Linked DNA regions of Homo sapiens. The protein of the gene in region 1 purifies or fractionates together with the protein of each later gene. This does not show direct contact. Each region holds a gene or a part of one and is shown in the gene's direction. Other genes may lie near its edges.

What was found.
Region 2: the proteins of KRT4 (region 1) and WWC1 purify together in Homo sapiens (co-immunoprecipitation; one large-scale study listed by IntAct). This does not show direct contact.

What each region holds. Positions count from the first base shown.
Region 1 is NC_000012.12:52,805,953-52,808,642, reverse strand, and holds the end of KRT4 (keratin, type II cytoskeletal 4), read left to right. Parts: intron 1-223; coding exon 224-349; intron 350-778; coding exon 779-999; intron 1,000-1,249; coding exon 1,250-1,284; intron 1,285-1,392; coding exon 1,393-1,574; 3' UTR 1,575-2,094; downstream 2,095-2,690.
Region 2 is NC_000005.10:168,298,145-168,301,800, forward strand, and holds part of WWC1 (protein KIBRA), read left to right. Parts: intron 1-3,656. UniProt on the Homo sapiens protein: Regulator of the Hippo signaling pathway, also known as the Salvador-Warts-Hippo (SWH) pathway.

The sequences.
Region 1 (2,690 bases):
CTCTGCTTTTGATGTCTGTGAACAGGTGATCATTAGCTCAAGCCCAATAGAAGTCAGATATGAACAGACTCTCCCAGGCATCGTTGGTCCTGGTCTGATTTGAAACTACTTGACATTTGGTGCTATTCTTGCCACCTGTGGCAATTCTCACTGAGTTCACTTGAGAATGGACCCTACCCAAATGCCCCTAACACCTGGTTCTCTGTGTCTTCTTGAGTCTTAGGTCCAGCAGCTCCAGATCTCGGTTGACCAACATGGTGACAACCTGAAGAACACCAAGAGTGAAATTGCAGAGCTCAACAGGATGATCCAGAGGCTGCGGGCAGAGATCGAGAACATCAAGAAGCAGGTGGGTGTCACTCCCTTCCAGATGGAGCACAAGGCCAGGGGCCTCAGGCAGACATCTCCAGAGTGGACAAGCAGATAAAGCATCAGGCCAGAAGACCCTGAGCTTGTTGCTGGGAATTCATAGCTCTTTGTGCAAGGCATACCCAGATTTTTTCAGCAATATCCTAGTTGGCACACCATGACGCTCCTGTGCATAGGTTTCTTGGCTCTTCTTCATGGGTTTTTGCTCATTTTTATTTAATCAGTCTGGTGGAGGCATTGGTGGGCTATGGCTGGAGTGAATGAGATGCATAAGTCTCAGGGAAAGTGGGCAGAACAGATAGAATCTTGACATCCTAACCCAAGGAAAGCTGGACCAGGGGAGGGGACAGGTGTAGAGGCCTTGAAGGCAGGGCACTGCTGACCACCTATCTAATGCCTTTGTCAATAGTGCCAGACTCTTCAGGTATCCGTGGCTGATGCAGAGCAGCGAGGTGAGAATGCCCTTAAAGATGCCCACAGCAAGCGCGTAGAGCTGGAGGCTGCCCTGCAGCAGGCCAAGGAGGAGCTGGCACGAATGCTGCGTGAGTACCAGGAGCTCATGAGTGTGAAGCTGGCCTTGGACATCGAGATCGCCACCTACCGCAAACTGCTGGAGGGCGAGGAGTACAGGTGAGGGGTTAGGCAGGGTGTGAACATGAGGGCCAGAGAGGTCCAGGGCCATGAGCTTATTTATGCCTCTGCCGGGCTGCAAGCATCAGTGTTGTGCCGGTGCATTACGAACCAGGACAGCTCAGCTAATAGGTTCACACTGGGCCCTCAAACTCAGAGGCTGCTCAAGGATAAGAGAGGTGAGTGAGGCATGCTTATTGAACAAAATTCTGTGCTCCCTGAGGCTCACCGCCTTTTCTTTCCCCTACAGAATGTCTGGAGAATGCCAGAGTGCCGTGAGCATCTGTAAGTACCTTCCACGCCTGCTGTAGTTGTTCATTCACCCGGGTCTTGCCAGACCCCTGGGGTGCTGGCAGCATTGGAATAACTGTGTCTTTTGTGTCTTTTCTGCAGCTGTGGTCAGCGGTAGCACCAGCACTGGAGGCATCAGCGGAGGATTAGGAAGTGGCTCCGGGTTTGGCCTGAGTAGTGGCTTTGGCTCCGGCTCTGGAAGTGGCTTTGGGTTTGGTGGCAGTGTCTCTGGCAGTTCCAGCAGCAAGATCATCTCTACCACCACCCTGAACAAGAGACGATAGAGGAGACGAGGTCCCTGCAGCTCACTGTGTCCAGCTGGGCCCAGCACTGGTGTCTCTGTGCTTCCTTCACTTCACCTCCATCCTCTGTCTCTGGGGCTCATCTTACTAGTATCCCCTCCACTATCCCATGGGCTCTCTCTGCCCCAGGATGATCTTCTGTGCTGGGACAGGGACTCTGCCTCTTGGAGTTTGGTAGCTACTTCTTGATTTGGGCCTGGTGACCCACCTGGAATGGGAAGGATGTCAGCTGACCTCTCACCTCCCATGGACAGAGAAGAAAATGACCAGGAGTGTCATCTCCAGAATTATTGGGGTCACATATGTCCCTTCCCAGTCCAATGCCATCTCCCACTAGATCCTGTATTATCCATCTACATCAGAACCAAACTACTTCTCCAACACCCGGCAGCACTTGGCCCTGCAAGCTTAGGATGAGAACCACTTAGTGTCCCATTCTACTCCTCTCATTCCCTCTTATCCATCTGCAGGTGAATCTTCAATAAAATGCTTTTGTCATTCATTCTGAGCAATGGTCTTTTTTCCCTGGGGAGAGGTCTCTAGAATCCTGTATAACTAGATAATTTTGGTGAAGGTGTATGCTTGCGGGTGTGAAGGATCTGTTTATACAGATCTGGGTCATCGACTAGTTTCTCAGGTCTCTACTTCTAAGTTACTCAAATTATTGGGGGAGAAGTACAGTGTACAGAGGCTGAAGGTTGCCTACAGGGCAGTTGTACAGATTGAAGGGGCATCCAACAATTATACACACATTGTCCATTGTAGGGCACCCTGGGGTAGCACCATTTCAATGCTGATCCTGGAATAAACCTGGAGGGAAGGGGTTTAAGTCTGCAGGTGGGGGGCATTTGATAGGTGTGAGAGAAGCAGGCCAGGGGTCTCTGCTGAATATAGAGCAAGAAGTTATGGAGCTTATGAGAGTGCTTATACTCTGTGTCTAGCAAGGCCTCCCTATTTTCATGAAATTCCATGCATGGGGCTAAATCTCACTGGCCCAACAAGGCTTTCAGGAACCTGTTCCAAGAATCAACAAGGTCACGGTTGTTGGAGGGAGGTGTGCATGTGTGTCATTCTCCTAGAGTTTTCATGAGCTGCTCA
Region 2 (3,656 bases), on another chromosome or scaffold:
TCTCGTGCCTCAGCCTCCCGAGTAGCTGGGATTACAGGTGCATGCCACCTCACCCAGCTAATTTTTGTATTTTTAGTAGAGACAGGGATTCACCATGTTGGCCAGGCTGGTCTCGAACTCCTGACCTCAAGTTATCCGCCTGCCTCAGCCTCCCAAAGTGTTAGGATTACAGGTGTGAGCCACTGTGCCCCACCCAACAAGGTTTCTTAAGTGAGAGTTATAACCAGTCTGCCAGGGAAGTTACCCAGAACCTCTTTATTCTCCATGCTGCTGCTCTTAATGATCCACTAATACCTGTAGATGTATAATAATAATACTTACATACAAGTGATTAGAGGGCTTTTTATCTTTTTCTGAGGCTTGAGTTTAAGATCTACGTATTCCATGGGAGTCTACCATGCCTGGGAACATCCTATGTCAATTATTAAGAAAGAAATGAGGTTTAAAAACACTAGGATAGATAATAGGGAGAAGCAAGAGATTTGGTAACCCAGAGAAGAATAAAATAATAGTCAATACCAGCATCTATTGAGTGTTTACTCTCTGCTGCCCACTGAGCTAAGCATTCTATTTTGTGACCTCATTTTATCTTTTCAACAGCCATATGGGGTAAGTACTTCAGATGAGGGAACTGAAATTTAGAAAGGTTAAGTAACCGGCCGGGCGCAGTGGCTCACTCCTGTAATTTCAGCACTTTGGGAGGTCGAGGTGGGTGGATCACCTGAGGTCAGGAGTTCAAGACCAGCCTGGCCAACATGGTGAAACCACGTCTCTACTAAAAATGCAAAATATTAGCCAGGTGTGGTGGCACGCACCTGTAATCCCAGCTACTCAGGAGGCTGAGACAGGAGAATCGCTTGAACCCAGGAGGCGGAGGTTGCAGTGAGCTGAGATCGCGCCTCTGCACTCTAGCCTGGGCAACAAGGGCGAAACGCCATCTCAAAAAAAAAGGTTTAGTAACTTGCTCAAGATCACCAACAGGTGTTGCATCCAGGACTGGAGCCCACCTAGCTGGATTCTTGCATCTACACTCATACTAGCTGTAGCCTGGTCTGGCTCTGTCCTGGCTTATTAATCCATCTCAGGGCCCCAGAGTGCCCTGTTGACAGCTGGGCTTGAGAGTTACCATTTATTCTTAAAATGGGTGAACCTGATGTGGATCTCAGGGAGAGACTTTGCTAAGGAGCCTTAACCAGAGAAGCCAGTGAGATCCTCATGGCAGCTTAGGAGACTGTTTGGCATAAACTCCACCTTCTGGGAGCAGCTGGCTAACCAGAGCTTTGGGGATGGGAGAAGAGAGAGAGATGGAGGCAGAGGGACTCTTTGAAGGATGCAGTGTGTACAAGGAGTTCACAGTCCTTTCCAAGTCGCTTGGGTAAATGCTCCCAACAGCCAGGGAATGAGTAGCCAAGGCCGTTCCTCTCTGTCGCCATCCCTCCCCCTCCCGGGGAGAGGGCTTATCCAAACTGACCCAATTTTCCAATTCCCTGGGGTCCCAGATTGCTGTGAGAAGAACACTGCCCTTTTGAAGGGAAGAGAATCAGGTTGCCTTAGTTACCTGGAAGGTTGGCACGCCAAGTTCAGGTGCACGTAAGGAGAAACAGGGCTAGAATAAGTGTGAGTCGAAGGTGGCCACCGTCTTGCTGCACGGTTCCCTCAGTGGCAGAAGCCTTGATCAGGCTTCAGTGGCACTTGCAGGGAATGCCGACCTAATGTCAGGTGGCTGTCCATGACGTGTATCAGGAGCTCTCTCCAGCCACATGTGGTGCTAGGTGATGAGGCTCTGCAGCCTCCAGTTCAGCAAGGGGCCCTGGATAAGAGGAATCCACTTCACTTGGAGAAGTGGCCTGGTGACATCCCTATCACCAGCTCCTCGCTATTTGCTAAGGGAAGCACCTCCACTTGGACAGGGCTGAGGGCTAGATCTGGGCAAAAAACTCCCGTCTTGCCTCTCCCAGCATGGAGATGGCCAGCTGGCTGCACACCTTTAGGTAGAACAGCAAAGGTTCAGTTGCTGCTGCCTCGAATCCGTTTCAGAGTGAGATAAAGAAAGAGAAAACTAAGAAACTGGATACAGTGACATTTTGTTATTAGACCTTCCCCAGCAGGCCATTTAGCCTTTAGTTCCTGAGCAGAAAAATAATAATGGGGTGGCGGGAGGAGGGGGCAGGCGTTCACTGTTGTGTGCGGAGAATATTCTCTAAAGATGCAGGATGGGGAAGAGGGGGTGGAGCAGAGAGTGGGGAGGAGGGAAAGAAAAAGGACAAGTGTGGTGGGTCACATGCCCATTCTCCCCACCCCCCACCCCTTGCCAGTTGCCTGCTCAATGCTTCTACCCATGACATCTCACTGTTGGGAAGAAATGAGATCTTTCAGTTTCAAATGTCTGCCAAAGAAAAGGGACGGAGGCTTAAGTTCTCACTCAATGGTCAGCCAGAAAAAAAAAAAAAAATGAAGCTGCATCAAGATTAGGGACACCTTTGTTGGCTTTTTTTTTCTTCTCTTGCTCCATTCATCACTCTCTGGCAGCGAGGACACCAGGCCAACTGCAGCTGCTGACTTTCCCCAGTCGGCTGCCTGCTGTTGCCCAGGCCTGTTTTGGTAGCAACCCCCACACTGGCTTCCTCCCCGCCCAGTGGTGGTTACTTGTTGGATTCGTCCCTGGGGTAGCCCCTGGGATCCACTGACGGGTAACAGACTTGGAAGGATAAAATGTCAAGATGCAGGCATCAGGTGGCTGCTAGGATGAGATGACCCTGGGACAGCCTTCCAGTCCTACATCTGTCGTGGCTTTTCTTGGAGAGTCGGGCTGTGAGCATTTCACTGTATTCCAGGAATTTCTTCTAAGTGCATTGTTTGTCTTTGTATCACTAACAGTGAGAACAATAACTGGCACCTGGTGATAATGGTGATAAATAATCATGATTGTCTTTAAAGATCCTTATCCATTGTCTGTCACGTGCCAAACACTATTGCTCATCATATTTTTATGGCATTTTGCAAATGAGGAAACTGAGGCCGAGAGACAAGTCAAGTGACAAGCTCATTTTTCCACTATGGAAAAAAATGTGTATGTGTTTGTTGTTCCACCCAAACATGGGATTGCATACCACACGATTCACGATTCCCTGTAGTAGATAAGCTCTCCATAAAGATCATTAGAGGACACTGAGTCAAGTCTGGCTTTGTCACTTTAAAATAGTAAGTGGGACTGGGTGCAGTGGCTGACACCTGTAATTCCAGCACTTTGGGAGGCCAAGGTGGGTGGATCACCTGAGGTCAGAAGTTCAAGACCACCCTGGTCAACATGGTGAAACACCATCTCTACTAAATATACAAAAAAATTAGCCAGGCGTGGTAGCAGGCGCCTGTAATCCCAGCTACTCGGGAGGCTGAGGCAGGAGAGTCGCTTGAACCTGGGAGACGGAGGTTGCAGTGAGTCGAGATTGTGCTATTGCACTCCAGCCTGGGCAACAAGAGCAAAACTTCGTCTCAAAAAAAAAAAAAAAAAGTAAGTGACCTTGAACCAGTTCCTTCTCAGCTATAAAACAAGGATAAGAATAGAACCTACCTACCCCTGAGAGTCATGGTGAGGATATGACATCCAACATAGAAAGTCTTAGCGCCTATCATGCCTTCATATGGGAGCCCTTTCC